2 linked regions of the Homo sapiens genome follow. The protein of the gene in region 1 interacts with the protein of each later gene in a pairwise test. Each region holds a gene or a part of one and is shown on either strand. Other genes may lie near its edges.

Region 1 (16,267 bases):
CATCCTGCTTGATTCTGTTCTGCAGATACCTTAGGAGCACATGCTGTCCAAAAGGGGCTATGCTAAGAGCACAGGGGTGTAGTGAATGTGTCAGGAGAGGCCCTGAGCATTGGTAGAGGTTTGGAATGGGCACATCCTCCCTCAAAGGAGCCCAGGACAGGTTCGGGTCTTCAGCCTCTTGGTTAAATACCTGAGAATAAATAATGAAAAGAAATAGCAGCTTTTTTTTTTTTTTTTTTTTTTTTTTTTTGAGATAAGAGTCTTGCTCTGTTGCCCCGGCTGGAGTGCAGTGGCACAATCTCGGCTCACTGCAACCTCCACCTCCCAGGATCAAGCAATTCTTCTGCCTCAGCCTCCCAAGTAGCTGGGATTACAGACGCCTGCCACCATGCCCGGCTAATTTTTGTATTTTTAGTAGAGGTGGGGTTTCGCCATGTTGGCCAGGCTGGTCTTGAACTCCTGACCTCAGGTGATCCGCCCACCTCAGCCTCCCAAAGTGCTAGTATTACAGGCGTGAGCCACTGCGCCCGGCCTAGAAATAGCAGCTTTTTAAAAGACAAATACTTTTTTTTTTGAGACAGGGTCTTGCTCTGTCACCCAGGCTGGAGTGCAGTGGTGTGATCTTGGCTCACTGCAACCTCCGCCTTCGGAGTTCAAGCAATTATTGTGCCTCAGCCCCCGAGGAGCTGGGATTACAGGTGTGTGCCAACACACCTGGCTAATTTTCATATTTTTTGTAGAGACAGGGTTTCGCCGTGTTGCCCAGGCTGTTCTCAAACTCCTGTCCTCAAGTGATCCACCTGCCTCAGCCTCCCAAAGTGCTGAGATTACAGGTGTGAGCCACTGCGTCCAGCCTAACAAATACTTTTTAAGGGCACATATCATTGGTAAGTTGTGAAAGCAGTCATGAAATGTCATATGTCATTAGGGAATTGTATTTGAGAGTTAAACTGTGTGTAGAAATTTCACATAAGAAAATATCAGGGTATCCTGCAAGTGTCAGCTCGATGTAAATGGATGTGATTTTGACACCGCAGTCATCAATATAGTCTGGGCCACGTTCACTGACGTCCAGAGGAGGAAGGGAGATGGCCCTCCTGGCTCTTTGGTTGGACCCCTTCTGGAGGCTGGATTCAGACCTCTGTCACATTTTAAGAAGACATTGGTGAATTAGAGTGTGTTTAGTTGATATCCTGGAAGAGTAGGAACTCTAGAAATCTTTTCATATGAGAACAGTTAAAAGGAACTGGAAGTGTTCAGTGTGGAGAAGGGAAAACTTAGGCAATATGTGATGTTTGAAGGGCCCACGTGGGAAAGAGATTAAAACTTTAATCTTTATCCAAGCTGGAATCCACAGACCAGAATTATGGATATATTGCAGTTCAGTGTGAGATGACCTTTCTAACAATTAGTGCAGGTATAGAGACTTTTTAAGCATTTATAAAGTGGTTATCAAAAGCAGACAGGGCTCTTGAGCTTCAGAGCTGCAGTATCCTCCTTTTCTCCCCAAGACGAATTGGGTTTATCTCATAAGCATTATTTTTATTTTTATTTATTTTTGAGACAGAGTCTCACTCTGTTGCCCAGGCAGTGGCGTGATCTCAGCTCACTGCAACCTCTGCCTCCTGGGTTCAAGCAATTCTCCTGCCTCAGCCTCCCAAGTAGCTGGGATTACAGGCGCCTACCACCACAGCTAGGTAATTTCTTGTATTTTTTTTTTTTTTTTAAGTAGAGACGGGGTTTCACCATGTTGGCGAGGCTAGTCTGGAACTCCTGACCTCAGGTGATCCAGCCGCCTCAGCCTCCCAAGGTGCTGGGATTACAGGCATCAGCCACTGCACCCAGCCTCATGAGCATTATTTTTAAAAGACTTGTAGTAACTTGGATCAAATGCTTCTGGTTTTAGTAGTTTAAGAGTACATGGATAGAGTTAAGTGGATATTTACATTCTGAGTCTCTCAAGTCTAAATTTTTATTTTGAAAGTTCTGAGAAAATAGATGTTTTAAGCTACAAAGACAGGTAATTGTCTTGAACCCAGGCCATGCTGTGGAGACGTTCACTGTCCGTAGACTAGTTTTGCATTGACAGTAGAAACAGGAAAGTAAATTGCTAAAAAACATTCATTTTTCTTTGACTTCAGCCAGGCACAGTGGCTCATGCCTATAACCCCAGCACTTTTGGAGGACAAGGTGGGAGGATTGCTTGAACCGAGGAGTTTGACACCAGCCTGGGCGATATAGTAAAAACCCCGTCTCTACCAAAAAAAAAAAAAAAAAATGCCAGGCGTGGTGTGGCATGCGCCAGTGGTCCCAATTCCTTGGGAGACTGACGTAGGAGGATCTCTTGAGCCCAGGAGGTTTGAGGCTGCAGTGAGCTATGATCATGCCACCACACTCCATCCTGGGCAACTTTAGCAAGACCCATTCTCAAAAAAAAAATAAATAAATAACACTTTTGGGCCGGGCGCGGTGGCTCACACCTATAATCCCAGCACTTTGGGAAGCCGAGGCAGGCGGATCACAAGGTCAAGAGATCGAGACCATCCTGGCCAACATGGTGAAAACCCATCTCTGCTAAAAATACAAAAAGTAGCTGGACATACTGGTGCCCGCCTGTAGTCCCAGCTACTCGGGAGGCTGAAGCAGGAGAATTGCTTGAACCCAGGAGGCGGAGGTTGCAGTGAGCCAAGATCGCGCCACTGCCCTCCAGCCTGGTGACAGAGCAAGACTCCGTCTCAAAAAAAAAAAACAAAAACAAACAAAAAAAAAACTTTTTTTTTTAATTGACTTCATTACAAAATACGATGGTGATTTGGACACTTAAAATGTCAAGTGGTTCTGAAAGAGATATCTCACATGTGTAATGTTTTGCCTCTCTCCAAATTAGGAATGGCTTTCTAAAGGACATGGGGAATACAGAGAAATCCCTAGTGAAAGAGACTTTTTTCAAGAAGTCAAGGAGAGTGAAAATGTGGTTTGCCATTTCTACAGAGACTCCACATTCAGGTAACTTTGTTTCCATCTGTGACTTTTTCTAAAAAAACACAGTGAATTGTTTGGCTGGAGATATACTGGCTTACTAGAGAAATGAAGAAAACTAAAAGAAAAAACTTCCTAAGTTGTTTCATTGTACTCTCTCATATGTTATTTAGTATTAAGTTAAGCAGGCAGGGGCCCAGTGACTCAAGCCTGCAATCTCAGCACTTTGGGAGGCCAAGTGGGGGGTGGATCACTTGAGGTCAGGAGTTCAAGACCAGCCTGGCCAACATGGCGAAACCCTGCCTCTACTAAAACTACAAAATTAGCCGGGTGTGGTGGCAGGTACCTGTAGTCTCAGCTACTGGGGAGGCTGAGGTGGGAGAATTGCTTGAACCCAGGAGACAGAGGTTGCAGTGAGCGGAGATCGCGACACTGCACTTCAGCTCGAGCGATAGAGTGAGACTCCATCTCAAAAAAGAAAGAAAAAAAAAGTTAATTGTTATTTTAAAGAGTAACTTAAAGAACAGTTACATGCAAAAGTATAAATGAATATTACTGAAAGTCAATATTCCCATATAAATGGCTTATATTTTTGAATTGTATTTTCACTAGCTAACTAAAAACATCTTAGAAATGTACACTTAAAATTCTTATCACCATGACAGTAATTATTTCCCTCTAGTATTGTGATGTAGCCATGATATTGGGAACGGGCAACAGCTGTTGAGAGTCAGTGTTCCTTCAGTTCCTCCTTGAAGGAACTAGCAACTGTGGTGGGGAGATGGTGGCTTGGCCAAACCTTTCACCAGAGCAGAGTTGGGACTGCCAGTCTTGGCTAGAAGGAGAAGTGATTTTTCTTAGACCACCCTAGGTCTCCAAATTTCTCTAAGGAAGCAGATCTCTTATAAAATGTTAATACCTCCTCAGAAGAGGTCACATCGTAAACCAAAGGACCCAAGCCTTTGTGGTTTTTTGTGCACAGATTTGATTAGTTGCCAACACTTAAAAATCGAGAGATAACTCCTTTTGAAAATATCCACACTTAGAATTTTTCTTTAAAAAATCAGAAAACTTGCTAATAGCATAGCTGGAACTATGATGGCAGTCATCTGCTGACTGGCACCTGCCTACCCAGGACAGACAAGCACTGTGCTCTAGAGTCTCTGGCACTCACTGTGGTTTCAGCCCTGCTCTCTTTCTCATTTCTGTGGCCTTCTTGCCCCTTTGTCTTGATCTCACAACCCAACAGCTTCATTGTTAGTTAACACCTTTCAAGAATTGATTGCCTGGTATTCATTGACTAAGAGAATAAAAATGAAACAAAATATTGAGATGGTGAAATCCCTTGTGAGGAACAGTGAGAGAAGGGATTAGGCAGGTAGAAAGGTATCAGAGAAACCTCTGCCCTTATGGTACACAACCATCTCGCATTGGCACACATTCCTCAAGTTGCCAACCTCTGACAAATATGATGAGGTGATATATAAATATACTAGTATGTAAAATATTATTTGTCCACTTGTTTTTTTTTTGTTGTTTTTTTTTGTTTTTGAGACAGAGTCTTACACTGTCACCCAGGCTAGAGTGCAATGGCAGGATCTTGGCTCACTCCAACCTCCACCTCCCGGGTTCAAGTGATTCTCCTGCCTCAGCCTCCCGAGTAGCCAGGGCTACAGTCACCCACCACTACACCCGGCTAACTTTTGTCTTTTTAGTAGAGACAGGGTTTCTCCAGATTGGCCAGGCTGGTCTCAAACTCTTGACCTCAGGTGAACCACCCACCTTGGCCTCCCAAAGTGTTGGGATTACAAGTATGAGCCACGGCACCCGGCCTCACTTGTTTTTTTTATGTCTTTCCCAACTAGATTGTTCGTTTTGTAGAGGCAGCGCATTTGCCTGTATTGTGACCTACTGTTCTCTGGGATCATAGCCCTAAAGCAACTGCCTGACGCATAGTAGGTGGTCAATAAATACATTTGATGGTGTATAAACAGTGCATCACCAGGAGTACTCACCTTCAAACAGAACTGAAAAATCAAAATCATCCAGTGAACTTTATATATTAGCAAAGTTCCTAGCACATAGTAGGCAGGATGCTTTCATGTATATTATCCCTAGAACATTCACAATAATCTTCAGAGGCACTTATTATTATTCCTGTATTTCATGTATGGAAACCAAGATTTGGAGAAATTGACTCACCTAGTATCACTCAGATACTAAATGATAAAAAAAAGAGAGAGATTGGAACCCATGTTTTAAGCCTATTGCTATTTTTTTAATTTTTAACTTTTGTGGGTAGTAGTAGGTAAATATGGGGTACATGAGATATTTTAACACAGGCATGCAGTGTTTAATAATCACATCAGGGTAAATGGAATATCCATCACCTCAAGCTTTTATCCTTTGTGTTATAAACAATCTAATTATGCTCTTTTAGTTATTTTTAAACATACGTAAAGGCCTATAGCTATTTATACCATGACTGTTGTTTTGGATTTTTAAAAATTGATTGACGGGTTGGGCGCCATGGCTCATGCCTGTAATCCCAGTACTTTGGGAGGCTGAGGCAGGTGGATCATGAGGTCAGGAGATCAAGGCCATCCTGGCCAACATGGTGAAAACCCATCTCTACTAAAATACAAAAAGTTAGCTGGGCATGGTGGCTCGTGCCTGTAGTCCCAGTTGTGCAGGAGGCTGAGGCAGGGGAATTGCTTGAACCTGGGAGGCGGAGGTTGCATTGAGCTGAGATCGTGCCACTGCACTCCAGCCTGGCAACAGAGCAAGACACTCTGTCTTGCTCTTTAAATACAAATTAAAATTAGCCAGGCAATGGTGCGGGTGCCTGTAATCCTAGCTTCTTAGGAGGCTGAGCCAGGAGAATTGCTTGAACCCAGGAGGTGGAGGTTGCAGTGAGCAGAGGTCGTGCCACTGCACTCTAGCCTGGGCGACAGAGCGAGACTCCATCTCAAAAAAAAAATACGTTCCTTACTGCAGTTAAAGTATGGAGTTGATTTATTTACAAATTTTCAGGAACATATTTCTCATATAAAGGTTGATTTATCATTTGTTTTGAGCTTTATTTAAAAACCATTTATTAATTTGTTCTCTCTTACCATTTTTCACTGAAATCTCGTTACTGAACTACATGAGTAACATATGAAAAAACATATCCGGGGAAAAAGTGATGAGGCACCAAGGTTACACATAACTTATGTTAGAGCCAAACTTAGTTCAGGAAAAACTACATCAAGTGCACAAAAAGCTTACTGGTAAAAATAACCATGAAGTATTTTGTGTGTGAGTCATCTAGAGGTAGTTCTCAAGCTTTATTTGAGCATAAGAACAGCTGTATGTTTCCCAACTCCACTGCCAGAGAATTTTGATTCATCTGGATATTTTAAAAGTTGACGGCAGGCTGGGTGTGGTAGCTCACACCTCTAATCCCAGCACTTTGGGAGGCTGAGGCAGGTGGATTGCTTGAGGTCAGCAGTTCAAGACCAGCCTAGTCAACATGGTGAAACCCCATCGCTACTAAAAATACAAAAATTAGCCGGGCGTGGTGGCAGGTGCCTGTAATCCCAGCTACTCGGGAGGCTGAGGAAGGAGAATCGATTGAACCCAGGAGGCAGAGATTACAGTGAGCCGAGATCGCGCCACTGCACTGCAGCCTGGGTGACAGAGTGAGAGTCCAACTCAAAAAAGATGAATAAATAAAAGTTGATCATAATGAACACCTGGGGTTAAGAACCACCGGTCTAAAAGATTGTTACAATAGTCTGTTTTAGAAACACTCGTGAATTGGCCAGTTGAAAATGAATTTTTTGAGACAGAGTCTTACTCTGTCGCCTAGCCTGGAGTGCAGTGGTGTAATCTTAGCTCACTGTAACCCCCACCTCCCAGGTTCAAGTGATTCTCGTGCCTCAGCCTCCTGTGTAGCTGGGATTTCAGGTGCCCATCATGACGCCCAGCTAATTTTTGTATTTTTAGTAGAGATGGGGTTTCACCATATTGACCAGGCTGGTCTTGAACTCTTGGCCTCAAGTGATCTGCCCGCCTCAGCCTCCCAAAGTGTTGGGATTACAGGCGTGAGCCACTGCATCAGGCCAGAAAATAAATTTTAATGTAAAGAAGATGTCACTTTTTTTGTTTGTTGAGATGGAGTCTCACTATGTTGCCCAGGTTGGAGTACAACGGCACAGTTTCGGCTCACTGCAGCCTCCACCTCCCAGGTTCAAGTGATTCTCCTGCCTCAGCCTCCCAAGTAGCTGGGACTACAGGCATGCACCACCACACCCAGCTAATTTTTGTATTTTTAGTAGAGACAGGGTTTCACCGTGTTGGCTAAGCTGGTCTCAAACTACTGACTTCAAGTGATCCGCCTGCCTCAGCCTCCCAAAGTGCCAAGATTACAGATGTGAGCCACCGCACCTGGCCAAGAAAATCTCACTTCTGTTTCCGTCTTCATTGGAAGATGGCTTAATAAAAGTTACTACTGGTAGGCTGGGTGCAGTGGCTCACGCTTGTAATCCTAGCACTTCGGGAGGCCGAGGCAGGCGGATCACAAGGTCAGGAGATCAAGACCATCCTGGCTAACACAGTGAAACCCCGTCTCTACTAAAAATACAAAAAATTAGCCGGGCATGGTGGCAGGCGCCTGTAGTCCCAGCTACTTGGGAGGCTGAGGCAGGAGAATGGCATGAACCAGGGAGGCGGAGCTTGCAGTGAGCCGAGCTTGTGCCACTGCACTCCAGCCTGGGGGACAGGGCAATACGCCACCTCCAAAAAAATAAAAAATAAAAAAGTTACTACTGGTATTTTTTAATTTCCTAGAAGCATAATGGCCACATTTATTTAAATATTATTAGTAACCCTTAGCCTTAATGTGCTTCTTACTGACAGCGTTGCATATTTAGGAGTAAGAAGTTTTTCCTCGGTAATGCTGTTCAGTTTTTCTTCATGACTTCCAAATATGGCACCATGTGTGCACTTCTGATTCTTGTAAGTCTCTTCCGAGTTTTGTCAAGTTTCAGTTTGTTCCTCTTCAAGTTTCCTGTGTAGGAGATAGGACAACTTCCTTTATGACTTAAAGCATATATTTAATATTTTAAAAGAGAATATCATTAATGCAAATCTGACTTTCTAGAATCTTATAGGCTGTTTTCCCATCTCGTAATCAGGCAGCTAACCTCTGATCTGGAAGTGAGGTCATCTGACACAAGTTTAAGTTGGCTGCCATGTTATGAGAGTCAACAGAAAAACTACATAATTAGATTTCCCTTGATGATATTTATTTTGAAAAAAGCGATCTGTGGTTTTAGCTTATAATTTTCTATGTGTGGTCACTTACAGGTGTAAAATACTAGACAGACATCTGGCAATATTGTCCAAGAAACACCTCGAGACCAAATTTTTGAAGCTGAATGTGGAAAAAGCACCTTTCCTTTGTGAGAGACTGCATATCAAAGTCATTCCCACACTAGCACTGCTAAAAGATGGGAAAACACAAGATTATGTTGTTGGGTTTACTGACCTAGGAAATACAGATGACTTCACCACAGAAACTTTAGAATGGAGGCTCGGTTCTTCTGACATTCTTAATTACAGGTAACTTTTAACAAAAGAAGAGATTGATTTTAATTCATATATAGTTGATATTTTTACAAAAGATTTTTGTATTGTAACATTTATTTTATGAAATTAAGGCATTTTGGCTGAGATGTGGAAAGTTTCTCAAAGGAAAAGCATGTTTTTTTGAAGTGTGTAATATTAGCGTGATTTTACGGCAAAATCAGATTTACAGATTAAACTGATTTAATAGGTAAAACTGAGTCTCACCGTACTCCTGACTATAAAAGTTTTCAGCTTAACGTATACTATTGACACTAATTTTGTATTAATCTGGAAACTTAAAATGGCAATCCAGTGTTGACTATTCCCCAATTTAAGCCAGATTGCTCAAATGAATTCTGACTTAAGTGATTCTCTTTGATAAAATAAAAATTAAAAGCAGACTCTTGCAAAGAAAGTTATATTTTAAAATACTAGATTTTTAACATGGATATTTCTGTTTTACTTATAGAGGCTGATGAATAGAAAAAGGTTTCTATGCCTAGCTTACATTGCTTGCTATGAAGAACAGTTTTAGTTTGAAAACAATCTAAAATCCAACTTCCATTTCTTTGTCCACTTCTTCAGACAAATAATTTATCTAATTCCACAAATCAGAGCATATCATCTTGTCTTTTTTGCCTTTTCTTGATTTGCAAAAGTAACAGGTAAAATTGTGCACTTACCATTCCAGAGTCATGGTGCCTTTCAGGAAGTAGAAGGTTCTCTCACGTTTTTCTTTCTCCCCCATTTCCCTCCCGTCTTTTCTCTGACTCTCCTAGACATGCCGAAATCATTCCTATGTTGTAGAAATTGGTTTCATTTCCTTAATATTAACATAAAATATTAATATTTATTAAATAAAGTTATATATTTTGAAGTAATTTTAAGCCTTAAACAAATTGCAGCCGGGTGGGGCACTTGTGTAATCTCAGAAGATTACAGACTTTGAGAGGCTGAGGTGGGAGAATCAGTTGAGGCCAGGAGTTTGAGACCAATTTGGGCAACATATAGTGAGATGAGACCTCGTCTCTACAAAAAACTAGTAGAAACAACCCCCTGCAGACTAGTACAACGAATCCTCATTGACCCTTTGCCCATATTACCCAATTTTAAACATTTTATATTTGTTTTATCATTGTCTTTATAGATACTATGAAGTATTTTGGGAACCATTTGAGTGGAAATTGTGAATACAGTGTCCCTTTACTCCTAAAGACTTCCATATATATTTTCTAAGAACAAGAACATTTTCTTACGTAGCGACAGTACAATTATTGAAACAGGAATTATTGTGTAATTTACCGCTCTTATTTCAAGTTTTCTCATTGTCCCAATAATTGTCCTTCATACCAAAAATGCAGCACATTTAGTTATTACGTCTTTAGTTACCATTGTTATTCTTTGGTTCTTAAGACTGATGTTTTTGAAGAGTACAAACTGTTTATTTTGGAGAACATCTCCCAGTTTGGGTTTGTCTTAAATTTCCTCAAGATTAGATTCAGATTATCGATTTTTGACGGGCATATTATGGAAGTGATGCATCATATCGGGAGGTGTGTGATGGTTTCTCTCATTTCCGGTGACAACTGAGCACTGTGTTAACCAAATGTTAATCCATAATTAATGATAAAAAGGAAAATAGGTCTGGTGCAGTGGCTCATACCTATAATCCCAGCACTTTGGGATGCCAAAGCAGGAGGATTGCTTGAGCCTAAGAGTTCAAGACAAGCCTGGGCAATGTAGTGAGATGTCATCACTACAAAAAATGTAAAAATTAACTGAGCATGGTGGCACACGCCTGTAGTCCAAGCTACTCGGGAGGCTGAGGTGGGAGGATCGCTTGAGCCCAGGAACTGGAGGTTGCAGTGAGCTGTGATCACACCACTGCACATCAGCCTGGGCCACAGAGTGAGACCCTGTCTCAAAAAGAAAGGAAAATAAAATTGATCTAAAACATTCAGTAGGACACAATAAGGTTTAAGGCTATTAACCATCAATATCAATATAAGCATTATACCTCTTCCCTGACACCAGCATTTTAAAGAAATTTTATTCTATGTTACAGGAAGAAAACAAAGATAGATTTTTGTGCAGTTTAGTATACTAGTACTAAATCATAAAGAATAAAATGCTTTTTTTTTTTTTTAAGTGGAAATTTAATGGAGCCACCATTTCAGAACCAAAAGAAATTTGGAACAAACTTCACAAAGCTGGAAAAGAAAACTATCCGAGGAAAGAAATATGATTCAGACTCTGATGATGATTAGAGCTCAATAATTCTTTGTAAATTGTCTTTTTTTTTCTGCTTCAGATTTAAATGTGTTTTTAAAATTCTATTAATGTCTATACATTGGTCACCTAAATACTCATATTCTCGAGTTTTATACAGTTGTATCACATCGAAAAGTGTCTTTACTGTTTTCTGTGTGGCCATCATGTTTAAGTTGAGGAAAACTCAGTTCTTAAATTATCTGGGAAGGGTCTGGATTCTCTATTTTTGAGATTGACTTTATCACAATATGATTCTTACATCTTTATACCATTTACAATTGTGTTTTAGATCTACAGAGTTAGAAATTCGAAAACTATTCCAGGACTAATTCTTAATCGGCATTATTTATACAAGAGGTCAAGTAACATTTACTAGCGCAATACTGCACTTGTAAATGAATTATAAACGCTCTTCTGGAATATATTTAAATAACCATTAAAGAACTGCTTATTCATTCTGGACACTGCATGTTGATGTTGAATCAACTGATGCCAGCAGAAAGCTATTTTGATTTGTGAACATACTGCCTTATTTAAAGGGTCCTGATTGCTTGTATTTTAAGACATTCATTAAAAAGAAACCAGGAAACACTTTTGAAATAACAGCATAAGGAACTTCACTGTCTCTGCTCAATAAAATACCTGTAACTGGAAGTTTATGTGGAAATTGTCATAAAAGCATACATCCAACAAAAACAGTTTTTCAAGAAAGTCAATCTTTTAGAATAGGGAGTCTGTGGCATTGGAGCCATGACCCCATTCCCTCTCTCCAGTTCCCAATCCTGGACTACAGTTTCTCCTCTGGAAGAGTAGATTATTAGCATGCCTCATTCCCTGAAGCTCTGTGTTGCAGAAGCCCTTTTGCAAGCAAGAGTAGCCAAGAGGTTTGGCACTCCTTCCTCCACCTAGTCCCCACTTACAGCACAGAAACTCTAACCCAGGAATATCAGACTGAGAATACTGGGCCTTAGTTGCTTTTGCCCCAGCTTACTCATAGGATGAAGGCTCTTTACTCGTACGTAGAGTGAAGGTTCCATGCAAGGAGATGCACTTGGAGGAGACCAGGGGTTATATCACCCCTTTCCCCCTTGTAGACTGTGAGTATAACTCCTAGAAAAGCAGGCCACTGTCCCCACCCGTAGCTCTGGAGCAGCAGAACAGAGGTTCTGTCCAGTGGAAATGGCAAGTCATAAAAACAGCTCTGGGCCGGGCACGGTGCCTCACGCCTATAATCCCAGCACTTTGGGAGGCCGAGGTGGGTGGATCACAAGGTCAAGAGATCAAGACCATTCTCGCTAACTTGGTGAAACCCCGTCTCTACTAAAAATATTTAATAAAGGGACTGACTAGAATAGAATGAGGGAAGATGTTGAAGTGTAAAGGTGCCACCAAATACGTTGGATCTGGGGAGGGGAGCAATTAAGAGCGTATTGACAGCTCCCTGATGGCAACAAGCAAAAGGGAATGCCAACAAGCTCAACAGAAAGAGCCTGGCACGGTGGCTCACACCTGTAATCCCAGCACTTGGGGAGGCCAAGGCGGGCAGATCACTTGAGGTTAGGAGTTCAAGACCAGCCTGGCCAACATGCTGAAACCCTGTCTCTACTAAAAGTTTAAAAATTAGCCAGGCATCATGGCACGTGCCTGTAATTCCAGCTATTCAGGAGGCTGAGTCATGGGAATCGCTTGAACGCGAGAGGCAGAGGTTGTAGTGGGCCAAGATCACACCACTCCACCCCAGCCTGGGTGACGGAGTGAGACCCTGTCTCAAAAAAATAGAGGCAGCTGTTATTAGTCCTAGGTTTAAGACAAGCCTCAAAGATACTCTACAGGGGCCTGAATTTAACTGGATTAAACTGCGGCGACTTGTGCCCCAGAGCATTGTCAGAAACAAAAGAGTGGCCAGGTGTGGTGGCTCATGCCTGTAATACCAGTACTTTGGGATGCGGAGGCGGGAGGACCACTTGAAGCCAGGAGTACAAGACCAGCCTCGGCAACATAGTGAGACCCTGTCTCTATAAAAAATGAAAAAAAAAATGAGTGGTTAGCTAGTAAATTAGTGGGTGCTAATAGTAGGATGTGATAACAAAAGAGGTTCTAACTAACTAGAACCTTTCCCGAAAGATCAGGAAAAGGTAAAAGAGAGCCCTATCAAAACCACTGTCCTTGGGGCTAGAGGGAGTAGTCATGGTGACTGCACACGCCCAGACTGTACTCTGAGGAGGGACATCAGAGCCTGCATACTTCAGGGTAAGTGGACTTAACTGAAATCATCCAGCCAAGAAACTAAACAAGAAGAAATGCGCTGGAGGGCAGAGGGTAGGGGTTGGAGGGAAATTACTATCCAGAGCTGCTGTGACACAGTGTCTAAAATATCCAGTCCTCAACAACAAACTACAAGACATACAGAAGAACAGGAAACTAATCCATACAAGGAGCGAAAAAGCAATCAAAGGAAACTGAGAGGGTCAATAGGTTGGAAGCAGATAAAAACTTCAAAGCATTATTATAAGTGTGTTCCAAAAAAAACTAAAGGAAACTGCTGGAAGTAAAGGAAGGTATGCTTACAATATTCCATCAAACAGAATATCAACAAAGAAAGGAATTTAAAAGGGCCAAATAGGCTGGGCGCGGTAGCTCACGCCTGTAATCCCAGCACTTTGGGAGGCCAAGGCGGGCGGATCACGAGGTCGGGAGATCGAGACCGTCCTGGCTAACACCGTGAAACCCCGTCTCTACTAAAAATACAAAAAATTAGCCGGGCGTGGTGGCGGGCGCCTGTAGTCCCACCTACTGGGGAGGCTGAGGCAGGAGAATGGCGTGAACCCGGGAGGCGGAGCTTGCAGTGAGCCGAGATTGCGCCACTGCACTCCAGCCTGGGCGACAGAGTGAGACTCCATCTCAAAAAATATATAAAATAAAATAAATAAAAGGGCCAAATAGAAATTCTAGAGTTCAAAAGTAAAGTAACTGTAATGAAAAATTCATTAGAGGAGCTCTACAGTAGATTGTGTTCACAGTAGAAAGAATCAGCAAATTATTGGAAGAAATGATGCCTGAAAATCAAATATTTGATGAAAACATTAATCCAAGATCAAGTTGTAAGATAACATAGAAAGATGCATACCAAAACTATAGTGAAAACAATGAAAGAAAAAAATCTTGAAAACAGAAAAAAAAACTACTCATTGTGTATAAGAAAACCCATTGGCCCAATGCTGTGGCTCACTCCTGTAATCCCAGCGCTTTGGAGCTTGAGGCAGGAGTGCTTGAGGCCAGGAGTTCAAAACCAGCCTGGGCAATATAGTGAGACCCCATCTCTACAAAAAATTTTTAAAAATTAGCCAGGTGTGGTGGCATCCACCTCATAACTACTTGAGAGGCTGAGGCAAGAGGATCACTTGAGCCCAGGAGTTTGAGGCTACAGTGAGCTATGATTGCACCACTATACTCCAGCATGGGCAACAGAACAAGACCTTGTCTCTATTTTGTTTTTTGTTTTTGTTTTTGTTTTTTCATTTTTCAGTGTTCTTAAGTTTAAAACAAAAAAAAAAAAAAAAGAAAAAGAAATGCAAAGCTTTATTTTATGAGTCAGAGGACTTGATACTAAGTCTTAAGATTGTAATACTGCCCCTGCCAAGTTAATCTGCAAATTCAACAAATTCAAAAAAACAAAAACCTCCACTCCCAGATACCTTTTTGCAAAAATTGACAAGTTGATCTTAAAATTTATGTGGACCCAGAGTAGCCAAAATAATCTTGATAAATAACATATTTGGAGTACTCACTCGGATATCAAAACTTAGGGCAAAACTACAATTATAAGACAGGCATAAAGATAAGCGAAATAAAAGTCCAGAAATAAACCCTTGTGTTTTGTAGTCAGTTGATGTTTGGCAAAAGTTCCAAGACAATTCAAATGGGAAAGAATAGTCTCTTCAACAAATGGTTTTGGGACAAGTAAATATTGACCCCTCCTTTATGCGATATACAAAAGTTAAACTCGAAATGTAACAAACACCTAAATATAAGAATTAAAACTATAAAACTCTAAGAGGAATATCTAAGGGTAAATCTTCACGACTTTGGGTTACACAAAGCCTTGTTGATGTGACAAGTCACAAAAGAAAAATAGATGAACACCAAATATAAAAACACTTGCTGCAATTGATACCAACAGATTAGAATAACAACTCAGAATTGGAAAAATATTTGCAAATCATATATCTGATAAAATGTATCCGGAATGTGTAGAGAATTCTTTCAACCCAATAAAAAGAATATAAATACCCAATTTAAAAAATGAGTAAAGGGGCCGGGCGCGGTGGCTCATGCCTGTAATTCCAGCACTTTGGGAGGCCAAGGCGGGCAGATCACGAGGTCAGGAGATCGAGACCATCCTGGCTAACACGGTGAAACCCCGTCTCTACTAAAAATAAAAAAAAAAATTAGCCGGGTATGGTGGCATGCGCCTGTAGTCCCAGCTACTCAGGAGACTGCGGCAGGAGAATGGCATGAACCCAGGAGGCAGAGCTTGCAGTGAGCCAAGATCGCGCCACTGCACTCCAGCCTGGGTGACAGAGTGAGACTCTATCTCAAAAAAAAAAAAAAAAAATTAACCAGGCGTGGTGGTGGGCGCCTGTAGTCCCAGCTACTCGGGAGGCTGAGGCAGGAGAATGGCATGAACCCGGGAGGTGGAGCTTGCAGTGAGCCGAGATCATGCCACTGCACTGCAGCCTGGGCGACAGAGTGAGAGTCCGTCTCAAAAAAAAAAAAAAAAAATGAGTAAAGGATCTGTACGTCTTCCCAAAAGAAATGGACAGTTGGGCAGTAAGTACATGAAAAGATGCTCAAATCATTAACTGTCAGGGAAATGTAAATCCAAACCACAATGACATCCCACTTTGCACCAGCCAGGATGATTATAATAAAAAAGGCAGACAACATGGTGAAACCCCGTCTCTACTAAAAACACAAAAATTAGCTGGGCGTGGTGGCATGCGCCTGTAGTACCAGCTACTCAGGAGGCTGAGATGGGAGAGTTGCATGAACCCAGGAGGTGGAGGTTGCAGTGAGCCAAGATCGCGCCACTGCACTCCAGCCTGGGTGACAGAGTGAGACTCTGTCTCAAAAAAAAAAAAAAAAAAAGGTGTAGTATTTGCATGTAACCTGCCACATATTCTCCTGTACACTTTAAAACCTCTCCAGATTATGTATAATACCTAACACATTGTAAATGCTATATAAATAGTTGTTATACTGTATTGATTAGACAATAATGACAACAAAAAAAGTCTACACCTAATAGGTACAGACAAAGCCAGATATTTTTCCTTTTCTGGAATATTTTCCATCTGCTGTTGGTTGAATCCACAGATGCAGAACCCAAGGATATGGAGGGCCA
Region 2 (16,267 bases), on another chromosome or scaffold:
TGGCCCTCTGGAAGGGTAATTTCTTTTTCAGAATTTTCCTGATTCTTTTCATAGTTTATATTTCTAGATAAATTTGAAAATCATTTTGTCAAATTAAAAAAGAACCAAAATCATTGGGGTTTTCATAAGATTGCACTAATTTCATGTTGTAATTTATGAAGAATTGATGTCTTTATAACTCTGAGTCACACTTAAGAATATAACATCTTTTTCTGTTTATTCAGATTTTCTTGTATGTTCCTCAGTAGAAGTTTTTCATACAGGTCTCAGATATTTCTTATTTGTATTTTGTTTGTCTTGATTTTGCTGTCACGAATGGGATATTTTCCATGCTTTTTTCTGTTTTTGTTGGTAACTAGAATAGATTTTGGTATTTATTTTGTTACTAGCTTCTTTACTAAACCCTTTTTTTTATTTCTTGATGGTTTCTCTGTATATTTTCTTGGATTCATATATAATAATGGGGCCAGGTGCGGTGGCTCACATCTGTATTCCCAGCACTTTGAGAGGCCAAGGGGGGTGGATCATCTGAGGTCAGGAGTTTGAGACCAGCCTGGCCAACATGGCGAAACCCTGTCTCTACTAAAAATACAAAAATTAGCCAGGCATGATGGTGTGCCCCTGTAATCCCAGCTACCCGGGAGGCTGAGGCAGGAGAATTGCTTGAATCCGCGAGGCGGAGGTTGCAGTGAGCCAAGATCATGCCACTGCACTTCAGCCTGGGCGACAAGAGTAAGACTCCATTTCAACAACAACAAAAATGTATATTTAATATGTATAAATATTATATTATATTATACATGTATTATATTTTATATTATATATAATAGTATGTAGTATATATTATATGTGATATTATATATTATATATATTACATATGATACATACGTAATAATAATAAGGCCACTGTGGCTGGAATGGGGCAAGTGAGGAGGTGACTGATAGGAGAGATGGCTGGAGAGGGAGTGGGGGTGAAAATCATGTAAAGCCTTATAAGCCATTGTCAGGAGGTTATTTCCTTCCTTGCTAACTATATTAGGATTATTATGTCATAGTAAGTTATTCTTTAAGCATTGCCTCTGTGATTTGGAAAAGTATAAAGATAGATCTTTTTTACAAAAACCTTAATATCTGCTATCAATACAATATTCATTAATGTACCTTAGTATTTAGAATGTCTTTTATCATATAGTCATAATAATGATATATTTTTCCCAATTGTTATGGTTTTAGGTATGTGAAATTTTCTACGTAACTCTTAGTTTTTTTTTTAAATGTAAAATTGCCTATTATGCTATGGGGCAGATTATTTAATCAGCAAAATGTCAGTTCCTCAAGGCCGAGATTATTTTTAACAACAGCAACCACAACAAAGAGGACCTATGTACTTTGCTTGCTTGGACCCTAACATTAATTTTAAATCCTCAGTCATTTTCAATTTTTAAGTTCTTCTGGCAGAAAAATACCTAAAGGCACCCAGGCAGCAAGAGTAGTGAAAAGTCACAAATCATGGCTTTGCTGAAAACTGACCTAGTTGACCAGATAAGTCAGCTCACTGGGAAAACTATAAGCTCCATTAAAAAATCAAATATCCCAAGAGGAATAAAACAAGGAAAGGAAAAACAGTCTTTATTGCTGAGAGAAGCAGAATTAACCAGGGAGTTGGCACTACTATAAATTAGAATTTTCCAAAACAGCAGTATTTTCTGACAAAGCTTGGCTATGTGATTCTAGATTTTTTTTTTTTTTTAAACAAGAGTTTCACTCTCGTCACCCAGGCTGGAGTGCAGTGGCACAATCTTGGCTCACTGCAACCTCTGCCTCCCGGATTCAAGAAATTATTCTGCCTTAGCCTCCTGAGTAGCTGGGATTACGGGTGCCCCCACCACACCTGGCTGATTCTTGTATTTTTAGTAGAGGGGGATTTCACCATGTTGGCCAGGCTGGTCTCAAACTCCTGACCAGGTGATCCACCCGTCTCGGCCTCCCAAAGTGCTGGGATTACAGGTGTGAGCCACTGTGCCTGGCCTATCACTTTAAGGCTGTGTGCAAATATATTTTTTCATTTCTAGTAGGAGGACAGATAGAAATGAAAAAGAGAAAATTTTATCACTGCCATTAGGAACTTCCCACCCTTTTCTTCATATTGTCTGTATTCTTTTGGGATCTTAGTGGATAACTTAGGACACAGAAGCAATGGATTTTTAAGTTTTTGTTTACTATAAAATAAATGTTCAAGCTACATAGATATAAAATATTGCCTCAGTTCAAACCTGACCCGATATATTTAGAAATATTTTTATGTCACACTCTAACATTTTATGTATTATCTTCCCAACTCTGATCTCCACCTTTGTAACAAAAAAGAGGTGAGAAGATTTTCTGATGATTATTTATTCATCTTTTGATCCTATCAATACATTCAGGGTTATATTTCGAATATTTACTTAAATTTTACATATCAGTAGATTTAGTTGTCAAATGCAGGAACATAAAAAATAACTTAAGAAATCAGTTGGGACAACAGTAAGAACAAAAGGAACCATCTGAAACATTCTACGAATAGGAGACTGTGAAAAGCTATTTTATTTCTGAAGAGTTAGTAACTTAACAACGAGGAACTGGGCAGATTCAAAAGTTTTTGTTTCCTTAGTTCCACTAAAATATGAAGGCAATATATTAATAATAATAGGCCTCATCTAGCTTCTGCAACCTTGATCTGTTGATGTCCTTAACAATGTGAAGCAGTATATTATAGGCCTCTATTCTTGTCCTTCCTGACTTTAACTTTCCCAAACTCCTGCCGCTTTCTCCGTCATTCTACTTCTCATACTTACCAAGACTTTTGTATTAACATTTTTTAACCATAGATCCTATGTAAATTTGAAGATTAATGTACCGTAATCTTTCTGTAGTTATTGACTCTCTGGGACTCTTTAGATCTGGATTAAAAGAGACAAATATGGAAGTAAACAATAAAGACAGAAGGTAAGACAGAAAGGGAATGAAGAGGAGATAAACTAATAATAAAAATAAAAACAAAGAAGCAGAGAACTTAAAATGGATGATTTACATAAAATTTTAGGGAAGAGGAAAATTATGGATATGCCCTTTTTATAAATCTTTAGAACAGCTGTCTACTTTTTAGTTTTTGGGATATAGATTTCATTTTTTAGGTAATGGTGAAATATTCTGGTTAAGTGCCAATATGTCACCTAGCTCTTCTTAATATTGGTTATTCTCCCTTTTAAGAAAGAAGACGTGGGCTCAGTGGTAATTTAAGCTCTTAGTCATTGATAGCTGAAAGATAGCACCTTAATTTCTGAGTCCTTAACATAAGGCTTTCCTGAATTTGAATAATAGATTTGCTTAAGTCTCATTTAGAAATCCGTTAGTTTGATAAGTAATATTTTCCTCATTTTTGAGTTTTGGGTTTGACATAGATCTTTTACAACAGATCAGTGGTATACATGGACTTAGAATTCATGAATTGCGTTTCTGAAGGGCATAATACTTGAAATACCTTAGTAGATTAAACCCACATTTATCCAGTGCATTATTTGGTCTCTAAAGCATTTTTTGTGGACATTCCTGGGCAGTGTCCACAGCAGTAACTCAGAGTTAGGTATATACTGCAAACACCCTTCTCAGTAAGCTCTGGTGGATCTAGGATTTGGTAATTTCCTTAAATGTTTATTAACCTTATATATTTTCAACTCACCATCACACCTCAAAGTCTCTTTTTAGCTCTAGAATTATCTTTTCATTACTTTGAAATAGTTCTGACATTTCCATGCTCACATCATGATTTAGAAGAAAGAAAGGCAGAAGACCTGAATTTTAGTCCTGGATTTGCCTCTAATTAGTTATATAGCCTTTGTTAAGGTGTTTAACTTCTCTGGACCTCATTTTATTATCATTTACATAATAAGCATTAAATAGTCACAAAATATTTTTTATTCTGAATAAATGTGGTAGATTTCATGATCATACCCTAGTTTCCCCTTGTTATAAATTTCTATATGATTTTATAGATTTGGCCATATGTTTTCTAATTTCTGTCTTCTGAGACAGAAAAATACTAACCACCCTATTATTCCTTCCCCCAATCTCTAAAATATTATCTCAGTTCCTTTGATTATGTGAATTGTACCTCTCTAATCTTTCTCTATTGATGCCTTTCTTAAAATTGGGTTGATGAAAACAGTACCAAGTACTGAAGATATGGGCAGATGGGCTACGATCTTATATAAATGTAAGATCATATTTTCTGGTTTTGAAAATTTGAGCAACTTTTTTAATGTCAATATTTCTAGGACATTTTAGCCATAATATTTCAAACTGTCTCTTAAGCCAACCCTTTTGCCTCTGGACTAGACTATTTCTAAGCTCTTTACTATTCAATATTGTCTGGGACAGAGATTTCACAACCTGTCTCTCACCTTGAGGAAGTTCTTATAACTACCATAAATCTTGCTTTCTGCAATTTAAGTTGAATTTATATCCTTTTTCTTTTCCCTGTGGAGATGGGAACAGCCCCAAACTGGAAACGATGCTTTCTTATGAGGGCTAGTACTGAACATAGTAGAAAAATTACAGTATTTCCAGTCCAGCATCATTTTTAGCTTTCATATATTAAAGCTTCCTAACTTCATTTCAATATTCATCTCAGGAGATGTTATTTTTTAAGTTCCAAATGAAATAACAGTTGCATGTCTAACATTAATGTTTATTATACCTTTTGCTACTTAGAACCAAATGAAGTATTAAAATAAAAAATGAGTTCTCAAAACCCATTTAAGGTCTTTAGCAGACTCGTTTTTTATTTGATATAACTATAATCATGGGACTGGGTTTTTGCCTCTGCTTTGCAGATTTTATCTTATTATTTTATTAGTTATATTATGTACATGATTTATTCATTCATATATTCCTTATAAACTGTGAAAATAGAAACTTATTATCTAAAAACAAACAGTCTTAAAGCAGATTTCAATGTGTGTATTCAAAAAGCGTTAGTACCTAGCTAAGAATTCTTCTAGGTATTGAGAGGAAAAAGAAAGCACATTCTCTGCCCTTGAGGAGCCTATAGTCTTATTAGGGGAAGAGATTATAAAATTGTAACTATAAAGTACTTAAAAAATAATACAAGATAGTGTATATAAAATAAGATGTTTGATGCTAATTTTATTTTGCATTTTAAAGATTAATACAGAATATATTTTATACTAGACAAATCTTCTCTGTTACCTAAGGTACTCTAAAATGTCTAATTAATTGTTTTATTCTGATTTCTGTTTTTGTACTTTGAAGGTTCAACAGTTTTTTGAAAAATCCTTCTTCTTACAGCTTTTGAAAGCTCATGAAAATGCTTTAGAAAAACAGTACAGTGAAATTACAAACCATAGGAATATGCTTCTTCAAACCTTTGTAAGTTTCCAGCCACCTAGAAAAATCTATTTCACTAATATGTAAAAAAGTATTCAAATATACTTAAGTATACTTTTAGAAAATTATCCATGTGCATATTAGCAGGTAGTACTGCTCAGATACAGGAAAGTATTAAGTGCTATTTAAAACCAATTGGTAGAGTAATACAGTTTGAAAGAAGTATATGGGCAGGGATGTAATATAGCAATTATTTTCAGTTGTAATAAGCACAAAAGAAACAGTGGAACTGATTTGAATTGCTCAAGCATTGAGACCTTGGATAAAATCGTTTTGAAAGGCAGAAAGTTTCACACTTTAGGCATATTTATGGATGTGGCTAAAAGGATGGATATTGTTAATCTTTTTCTGTTAACTCAGAGCCAACAGCCTGAGCAATAGTTTTGAATGACAGGGCCAATTTAGAAATATGACTTGTGATTGACATTTTAAAGAAAATACATTTAAAGATATTAAAAATACATATCTGAAGTCAGAACCAACACACTTGGTGGTTTGAAATGACGTGGCCAGTTTGAAAATGAGGCTTAAAATTCATTGACATAGCTTAGAAAAATATGGTAATGTTTATATTCTAGCATTGTCAAAGAGTTTAGGTTTTTGCATTGTCCACAGTTTTTGGAAATTCTTATTTCTCTGCCATGTTGATACTTCATAAAATGTAAACTATTATTTAAAACTGATTTTGAAGTGAATATATAATTTTGATTTCATCATCCACATTTTAAAAGGTTTTCTTGGCTATCCTTGTTTGTTTGTTTGTTTTCCTGTAAGGCAGTAATCCCTTTAAGTGTAAATTTTAGTTTTTCAGTTTGGCCATTTAATTACTTTACTCTCCAGTTTTATATTATAATTATAAAATGTAATATGATTCTGAATTTTAATACACAAATAAACAGATATAATGATGAGTGGTAGAATATCTACCTCAATAATTCTCCCAAAACTTTAAGATTAAATCTTTCATCTGAAGATAGTTGTTACTATATAATAGCTTCAGTTTTTTATTAATATTACTATGAGAAAAAAACATTTTTGCCATAAAACCAGGAAGTGTAACTATATACTTTCATTGTTAATAATTCCAAATTATTATATTTTAAATAATTAAGGAAAAATATTATTGCAACTAACACCTATATTTGATCTTTTATTTATGTTTTTCAGGAGGCTATAAAGAAACAAATGATAGAGGAGGAAGACAAATTTATTAAGGAAATTACAGACTTTAATAATGATTATGAAATAACAAAGAAAAGAGAGCTTTTGATGAAAGAAAATGTCAAGATTGAAATATCTGACTTAGAAAACCAAGCAAACATGTTGAAAAGTGGTATGAATAAATATCACCTCATTTGTCTTGCATTAATGAAAATAACTTATTTTGAATGAATGAATTTTCCAAAAATTTAACTTTTTCATGAGCAAATTGGGTTATTGCATAGCGATTCTTTTACTTTTATTGATTTAATGAAGATGTATCTTCTATTGTGAGCAGTTTCAAATGATTTAGAAGTACATGTGACATGAACATTTGGTCATTCATTTAATAAATAAATATCTGTTATGTGATAGGCACTGTTCTAGGTCTTGAAGATATAACAATAAAAAGTGGAGGAAGAAAATATGTAAGCAGACATTTACAGCACATTGTGATGGAAGCTACAGTAGGGGTTAGGATTGGTGCCCTAATCCTCTAACAATCCAGGAGAAGCTAGGAATAAGTTTACACAGTGGAGTGGAGAGAGTTTTATTTCAGGAACACTAGTGAAGGTTTGGGTCTGTGTCCCCATGCAAATGTCGTGTCAAATTGTAATCCTTAATGTTGGAGGTTGGGCCTGGTGGGAGGTGATTGGCTCATGGGGGCAGGTTTCCCCTTTGGTGCTATTCTCATGACATTGAGTGAGTTATCATGAGATTTGGTTGTTTAAAAGTATGTAGCACCTCCTGCTTCTCTCTGTTCTTCCTGCTCTGGCCATGTAAGATGTTCCTGCTTCCCCTCTGCCTTCCACCACGATTTTAAGTTTTCTGAGGCCTCCCCAGCCATGCTCCCTCTATAGCTTCCAGAACCATGAGCTAAGTAAATCTCTCTTCTTCTTCTTCTTCTTTTTTAATAAATTACCCAGTCTCGGGTAGTTCTTTATAGTAGTGCAAGAATGGACTAATACAACTAGTATGTGGGTTATTGCAATCTTTGATAAGATCCTGAATTAAAGCAGTTGCCAAGTAGGGAAAGTCAAGGATAAATCAGTTTTCAAACTTCAGAGATTCTATTATAGCATTAGCTTAATGTCCAGTATTTCCTCATCTAAACTAGGTTCAATTGCACATGAGGCTCCTTGGATGTAGTTGCTTATGTAACTCCTTGAGTACATGTCCTCTTGATCTGAAGACCTCAGCCAAAGAAACAGTTGCCCTTCATATTCCCAATATACTATGGTGAGATAGGCATAGGATAATCACTAGTGATACTTCTGTTCAGAAAGCAGAAAAACTGGAGTCATTGTTATATAGCAATTCTGAAATTGAGCCAGGCAAGTATTGGACATTCCTTGATTAGGACTCAGTCATCCTCCCTCCTGGGAATGATTCCCCATGACTCTTGACACTACTCTCTGTGCTCCTATTTCCCTTCTCTGATCATTCGTTTTTTTTTTTTTTTTTAAAAAAATATATATAAAAGATAGCTTGCATTTGCAATTGTCCTGTGCCTGCTTCCATTCTGTAAAAGTTGCGTATCATTCCTTTTTTTTACTGCCTCTGTCCATTTCAGTCCAAGCTCACTGTGTTCATGTAAATACAGTGCTCTTAAAAACTTTGTGGGTCTCACGTGAATCCTACTGAGGCTCACTTCATTAGGGAAAAGCCACAACTACAAATTTCTTTGAGATAAGCCCTTTTATACTTTGGCCTTTTGCTAAAACTACTGAGACAATATTCTTAAACTTCTTGGCCCTATACTTTGACTGAATGGTTCTCTGAGGCATCACCTTGGATTTTTCTGAGGTTTTAGGAAAGGCTTTTTAATTCACATGCTAGATTTAGTCTTTATGATTTCTTAAGAATATTGGATTTTTTTCTTTACCCTCAAGACATTTCTTAGTGGTGAGAATGAAGACAGGGAGGGCATCTTGTAGTAAGGCTACCAAAGTTGTTTATTTTAATTCCAGAACAACCATTAAGGAAATAATCCAAAAACAAATAGCTAAAAGGACAATATAGAAATTAAAATACACATTTAATCTGAAAGAAAGTGGGAAAGGGAAAGAGGGGAACAAAAACACAGAACAGACAGAAAACTAATAATAAAATGATACACTTGAATCCATTTGCAATCATGCATCACTTTAATAATGGGGATATGTTCTGAGAAATGCATTCTTAGTCAGTATCATCGTGTGAACATCATAGATTGTACTTACACAAACCTGGATGGGATAACCTATTACACACCTGGGCTATATGGTATAGCCTATTGCTCCTAGGCTGTAAGCCTGTACTCAATGTTACTATACTGAAGACTGTAGGCAGTTGGAACACAATGGCAAGTATTTGTCTACCTAAACATATATAAATCTAGAAAAGGTACAGCAAAAATACAGTATAAATGATTTTAAAAATCTCTATAGGGCACCTTTATAGGGTATTTACCATGAATGGAGCTTGTAGAGCTGGAAGTTGCTCTGGGCGAGTCAGTGAGTGAATGGTGTGTGAATGTGGAGGCCTAGAACATTACTGTATGCTACTGTAAACTTTATAAACACTGTGTATTTAGGCTACACTAAGTTTGTAAAAAGAATTTTTCTTCCAAAGTAAATTAACATTAACTTCAGCTTACTGTAACTTTTTTACTTTATAAACCTTTTATTATTTTTGACTCTTCTAATAACACTTAGTTTAAAACACATGTTGTATGAATATACAAAAAATTTTTTTCTTTGTATCCTTATTCTACAACTTTCTTCTATCTTAGAAATTATTTTTTTACTTGAAACTAAAAAAAAAAAAAAAAACCTAAAACACAAACATGCACATTAGGCTTACACAGAGTCAGTATCACAATATCACTGTCTTCCACCTCTACATCTTGTCCCACTGGAAGGTCTTCAGGGACATGGAGCTATCATCTTCTATGAGAACAATGCCTTTGTATATGGAAATACAAATGACTTACAAAATCAAAACAATTTTAAAAAGAATAAAATTTAAGGATTTATATTCTGTGATTTCAAAATTTACTCAAATTCTATAGTAATCAAGATAATGTGTCACTGCCTTAAAAATAGGCATATAAATAGCTGGAACAGAAGAGTCCAGAAATAGAAATGCATATTGTCAACTGGTTTTCAACAAAGATGGAAAGGCAGTTCAGTGGGAAAAGGAAAGTATTTTCAATAAGTGGTGCTAGAAGAATTGGACATCCATTGCAAAACAATGATCCTTAACTCTTCACACCGTATTATAAATTAACTCAAAATAGGCATACACCTAGACACAAAAGCTAAAATTATGAATTTCCTAGAAGAAAACATAGGAGAAAATCTTTTCCATCTTGGAATAGGCAATGATTTCTTAGATGGGACACAAGAATCATGAACCGTAAAAAGAAAAACAGATTTAAAATAAATTGAAAAGACACTTAAGAAAATTAGAAGACAGACAACAGTCTTGGAGAGAATATTTGCATTAAATATATCTTCCAATGTACTGTTATCCAGAACATAATGAACTCTAACAACTTAAAAAATAAGAAAGGCAAAAAGCCAATTATAAAAGGGAAAAAAGTTGAACTTCACAATAGAGTACTAATGGCCAATGAACATGTGAAAAGATACTCAATATCTTTAGTCATTTGGAAAATACAAATTAAAACGGCAGTGATATATCACTGTATATCCACTTAATTAAAGTTAAAAAGACTGACCATACCAAACGTTGCTGAGAATGTGGAGCATCTGATACTCATATGGTAGTGATGGGAATGTAAAATTAATGGTACAATCACTTTAGAAAATTGTTTTGCAGTTTCTTAACAAGCTAAATGTACATTTACCATACAGCCCAGCCACTCCACAATGAGATACTCCAGAGAGATGAAACCTATATCCTAACGTTTTGGCAGTTTTATTCACAGTAGTCAAAAATTGAACATAACTTAAATGTCCGTTAAGAAGTGAATGGTTTCGGAGGCCGAGGTGGGCGGATCACAAGGTCAGGAGTTCAAGACCAGCCTGGCCAACATAGTGAAACCCCGTCTCTACTAAAACCAAAAAATTAGCCGGGCGTGGTGTCGGGCACCTGTAATCCCAGCTACTCAGGAGGCTGAGGCAGAAGAATGGCTTGAACCCAGGAGGCGGAGGTTGCAGTGAGCCAAGATCGCGCCATTGCACTCCAGCCTGGGTGACAGAGTGAGACTTCGTCTCAAAAAAAAAAAAAAAAAAAAGGAAGTAAATGGTTAAACAAAATTGACATATCTATGCAACGGAATACTTGGCAATAAAAATGACTAATTCTACTGATGCACTACATGGACCTATTTCAAAATAATATGATGATTAAAAGAAGCTAGACACATGCAAACTAACGTAAAGCCATGGCAAGCAGATCAATGGTTGCCTGGGTCAAAATGAATGAACTGTGAAGGGTCACAAATAATCTTTTGGGTTGATAGAAATGTACAGTTTCTTGCCTGTGGGTGTTTCATAGGTGTCAGTGACTGTCAAAAGTCATGAAATTGTATGCTCTAAATGAATATACTTTATGTAAATTATTCCTCTTTAAAATTAAGAAAAAAAAAAGTCCCTGATATCACAGATGCTATTGGAGCCCTCTAGTTTAGTTCTCTTTTTCTAGAAATATGGATTTATTTTAAAAGATTTGTTTTCAGAGTACCTGATATTGTTGATTTTTTATTCTTTCAGAAAGTCTGTTTCTAGGTATTTCATAACATTTTCATATAAAACTTTAATCTTTTTAATAGCAGGGACTTTATTTTGATTAATGTGCTGGCCCCAACAGTATGAATGAGATAATAATAAATTGATGACTGCTTCAAAAGGAGAAGCACAAGATGATATGAGAACATATATAAGTAGACTTAAACTGGACTAGGAAGTTAAGGAAGATTTCCCTGAACAAGTTGCCTTCAGAGTGAGGTCTGAAGAATGATACTGATTAGCCAAGTGAGAGATTTGAGTGTAGATGTCAATTAGATAGTTGTAATTTAAGTCAAGAGCTCAGAGATAGTTCTGGGCTAGAGCTATTAAATTTTGGGACTCACCTAGAGAGAATGTATTGAAAGAAAATGGACAGTACCCTGCAGAACCTCAGGATTTTCAAAAACTTGAGTGAAGAGTCTAAGACGGCTTCATGAAAGATGGGCAGAACACGTTACTGAGTGGAGTTGACATCACCTAGGGAGAGAGTATTTGAAGGCATGATCAACCCATGTTGATTGCTGCTGAGCTGTCAACTAGAATAAGGACTAAGAAGCAGCAATCAGAGGTCATTGGTGGCCTTCAGGAAAGGGAGCAGATTGAGGTAATAAGCAGGGCAAAAGCCAAATTGTAAGGAGTTGAGCAGAAGGAAGAGCAGAAATGGGATATCTATTAATAAAATTCATTACATTAATAGATTACAGTTGGAAAAGCATATGATTGTTTTTAAAAAGGCGATGTAGAGGGAAGGAGGGAAAAATGGTGGAGGAGAGGTGAAAGGAGAGGAAGAAGGAGAGGGAGAGCTTCACTCTGACATCATGATTAACAATGAAACTCTAGAAGTATTTCCATAAAAGTTAGTAATAAGGGAGGGTATCCAATATCATCACTATTATATAACAGTGTTCTAAAAGTATCAGCCAGTAAAATTAGAAACACAGTAAATATTGGAAAACAAAGACAAAATTGTCATTAGTTGAAGCTGATACAACTTGATTTCACTGGGTTTTCTATGTTTAGTTGCATCCTCCACCATTCTTCCCTCCCTCCCACTACATCTCCTTTTTGAGACATTCATATTTCCAACTGTAATCTATTGATGTAATAAATTTTATTTATATATATCCTATCACTAACCTTACTTAGCTGTGCACTCTTAGTCTTCTAATGTATTACTGAATTTTATTTGATAACATCTTCTTTAAGATTTTTGCATCAGTATATGTGAGATTCATCTTTGTGTGTGTATTATGTTGATTTCACAAAAAGCATACTGACGCTTTTTTCTTTCTCTGCTTGGAAAAATGTACGTACTATAATTATCTATTCCTTCAGGGTTCAAAAGAATTAACCTATGAAACGGTTTGTGGCAACTCTTCTTGGTGGTGGTGGTGGTGGAGAAAGAAGTTGTTCAAATTTTAAGCAGATATTAGAGCTGTTGACTTCCCAGAGCAGTTTAGCTTCCATTTGTCTTCTTACCTGTCAGTGTTTGCTCTTCCATTCCCACTTCTAATTCGTGCCACCACATCTGTTATTTTCTGGCATTTGACTTTTCTCCTCTTTCTTCCTTCATTCTGACCTTGCCCACTGAGCTTTTAGCCCATAACTATGATTAGTCAGCCAGTTTCATTGGGTTTTGAATAATCTCCATTTTTAACTTCATAGCTATTTTTATATTTATACTATTTTCTGCTACTCAGTGTTTTTTTCCCACTGCCAGATATTATCTTTGATTTATTATTTTTTAACCACAGGATTGGAGCCTATTCTTACTCCTTGAGATTGCCAAAATGTGAACATCCATTTTTAAAAAAGATATTATTAATACTGTACTATTGTATTAAGCCTCTTAGGTTATGTTCTGTTTAAATATGGCAAACCAAGCTTTCCAACCTGTTTTGCCATCCCTGCAGCATCTAGTGCCTCTCCACCTTCCAGCCTCACCCAGCAGCTTCTTTGTGCTAAAGGCATGCTGCCCTCTTTTGTGTTCCTAGATTGTACCCTGCTTCCTCCTGCCTCAGGACCGTTGACTGTGTTCTATTTGGAATACTTTTTTAATCCTTTATCTAGTTTGTGGGTCCCCAACCCCTGGGCCAGTACTGGTCCGTGGCCTGTTAAGAAGTAAGCCACATAGCAGGAGGTGAGTGGCGGGTGAGTGAGCAAAGCTTCATCTGTATTTACAGCAACTCCCCATCACTCACATTACCACCTGAGCTCTGCCTCCTATCAGATCAGCAGCAGTTATTAGATTCTCGAACATAAACCCTCTCGTGAACTGTGCATGTGAGGGATGTAGATTGCATGCTCCTTATGAGAATCTAATGGCTGATGATTTGCCACTGTCTCCCGTCACCCCCAGATGGGACGGTCTTGTTGCAGGAAAACAAGCTCAGGGATCCCACTGATTCTACATTATGGTGAGTTGTGTGATTATTTCATTATAGATAACAATGTAATAAAAATAGAAATAAAGTGCACAATAAATGTAATGCAATTGAACCATCCTGAAGCCACTCCTCTCCCTCCCGTGGTCCATGGAAAAATTGTCTTCCACAAAAACAGTCCCTGGTGCCAAAAAAGGTTGGGGACTGGTGATCTAGTTAACTTTTTCATTCTTCTGATCTCAGCTCAAATGTTACATCTTCAGGAAATCCTTCTGTGATACTCCACCCTCCCAATTCCATATTAGGTCAGCTCTTCTGGTTATATTCTCTCATTGCCCTCTGTGCTTTTTCTTCAAAGCATTGTAATTACACACTTGTATGATTATTTGATTCCTGTCTGTTTCTTCCACTAAAGTATAAATTTTCACAGAGAGAGGAACTACATTTGCTTACAAATGTATTTCTGAAATGTGCTTAGTTTGTTCACTCATTCAGTAATACTTGTGCACTTTTTGTGTATCAGGCATTGTTATAGGACCTGGTGTTACTGTAGTGACCAAGAAAAGAAGAAAAAAATCCCTGCCCCCATGGAGCCTACATTCCAGTATGAGAGAGGGAGGGAGTGGAGAAAAATAAGGGAGGGAAGAGGGATAGATAGATAAGGGGTGGGGTTGCAGTGGGGTGTGTGGTACAGTTTTACATAGATGTCCAGGGAAAGCCTCATTAATAAGGCGAGTTTTGAATAAGACCTGAAAGAGGTAAGGGAATCAAACAAGTGAATACCTGGGGGAATATCATTTCACAGAGAAGGAATAGCTGATGCAAATCACCTGAAGGGAGATTGTGCCTAATCATTTTTTGAGAAAGAGCAGAGCCTAAGGCATTTAGAGTTAAAGGAGAGGTCATGAGATCAGAGAGGTGACAGGAATCCAGATTTAAAACCTTGTGGGTCATTCTAAAGACTTTTACTGAAGTGAGATGAGAAGCCATTGGAGGACTTAAGCAAAAGAGCGAAGGGTCTCACATTTGAATAGGATTACTTTGACTGCTATTGAGAACACAGTTAAGGGAGGTAAAAGCAGAAACGGAAACCTAGAAGACAGTGGCTGTAATCCAGATGAGAGATGATGAGCAGTTGGATCAGGGATGCAGCATAGAAGTGGTAAGTGGTATTCAGGTTCTAAATATGTTTTGAAGGTAGCAAGGAGGATTTCAAGATGGACTTGATGTGGAATATGAGAGAAATAAGTGTTAAGGTTGACTTTAAGGTTTTTGGCCTGAGAAACTAGAAATGTGGAATAATTGATATTCAATATATCTGTTTGTAAAATGAATATTTATTTTAAACATTTGGTAATTCATAGATAAAACAGTTCATCACTTTTGGCTTCAAAATAATGGTTGTCATAATGTTTTTCTCAAAATGTTCCTCTTACTCATTTCTCCGAGTTGTTGAATTCATTTTTCTTAGATGTGAGATAAGCAATATATGACACTTTTCTTTGCTTGGCAATATCCTTTAATGATTGGCAATGTACATATGAGGAAGACAATTCACATGTTAAAAGATGTAAATTAATTTTGATTGTCTTAGTTGGTTTAATATTCATAACCATAAAAGCTAGCTGTTGATTAGAACATTGTGGGTTTTAGGCCGTGGAAGAAATTAAAAAGTGATTGCCACATCAATTATACCTAAATAAAGCTGTAAATAAAAATAACAATAAAATAATAGTGAGGCAATAAACAAGTAGGAAAAAAAGTTATCACCACAAACACAGTGTTTACTTTTTTCTGTTCTATAAGCCTGATAAGAAATTGGCATATTTGTTTTATTTTTTTCTTTAAAGGATTAATCTTTAGACTTACCTTTTTCATTTAGGCTAAAGTGTCAGGATTAAGAAAGATATATTTCAGAAATACTTAAATCCAGTATTTCTCCATCATTCTTGCCTAAGTTTTACAAAGATTTTCTTGTGATAGAATGTCTGATAAATCAATTAATAATGAATAAAATATTGTATCTTTTTTAATCTGTTGAATATTGTGTTATGGTATCCTGGATTCCCTCTATTGAATATTAATATGTAGTTATATTTATATTTTAAACTTTTGTTTATTAAGGGAGCAGAAGGATAAACATGAACGTATTTTCTTTTCATTGAATTGTCCACTTTCAGTTACCTACACTAGTGGACAGAAACATTGTGAATAATCAAAAATATTTAAAGTCAATTATATGATTTATTTTAGTTTTGTTCAACATGCTTTCTTGAGCATCTACTGTATATACTACACCAGGCACTGTTCAGAAATTGGGATTTAAAGATGAATGAGGCATAGTTCCTGTTTTCAAGGAGCTTGTGATCTAATGTGGAAGAGAGACAAGTAAAAGGATAATTTAAATATTATGTGGAGAACTTTTACGTATCGTCATGAGGAATAATTTTATGGAATTTTCCCTTCTATCACAACTAAAAGACTGGAGAAAATTATATG

What was found.
Region 2: the proteins of TXNDC9 (region 1) and CCDC172 interact in binary tests that used the Homo sapiens proteins (3 or more experiments, as listed by UniProt).

Annotation. Positions count from the first base shown.
Region 1 is NC_000002.12:99,314,274-99,330,540, reverse strand, and holds the end of TXNDC9 (thioredoxin domain-containing protein 9), read left to right. Parts: intron 1-2,887; coding exon 2,888-3,006; intron 3,007-8,331; coding exon 8,332-8,586; intron 8,587-8,757; exon of another isoform or gene 8,758-9,415; intron 9,416-10,741; coding exon 10,742-10,859; 3' UTR 10,860-11,559; downstream 11,560-16,267. UniProt on the Homo sapiens protein: Significantly diminishes the chaperonin TCP1 complex ATPase activity, thus negatively impacts protein folding, including that of actin or tubulin.
Region 2 is NC_000010.11:116,335,421-116,351,687, forward strand, and holds part of CCDC172 (coiled-coil domain-containing protein 172), read left to right. Parts: intron 1-5,313; coding exon 5,314-5,430; intron 5,431-6,615; coding exon 6,616-6,781; intron 6,782-16,267.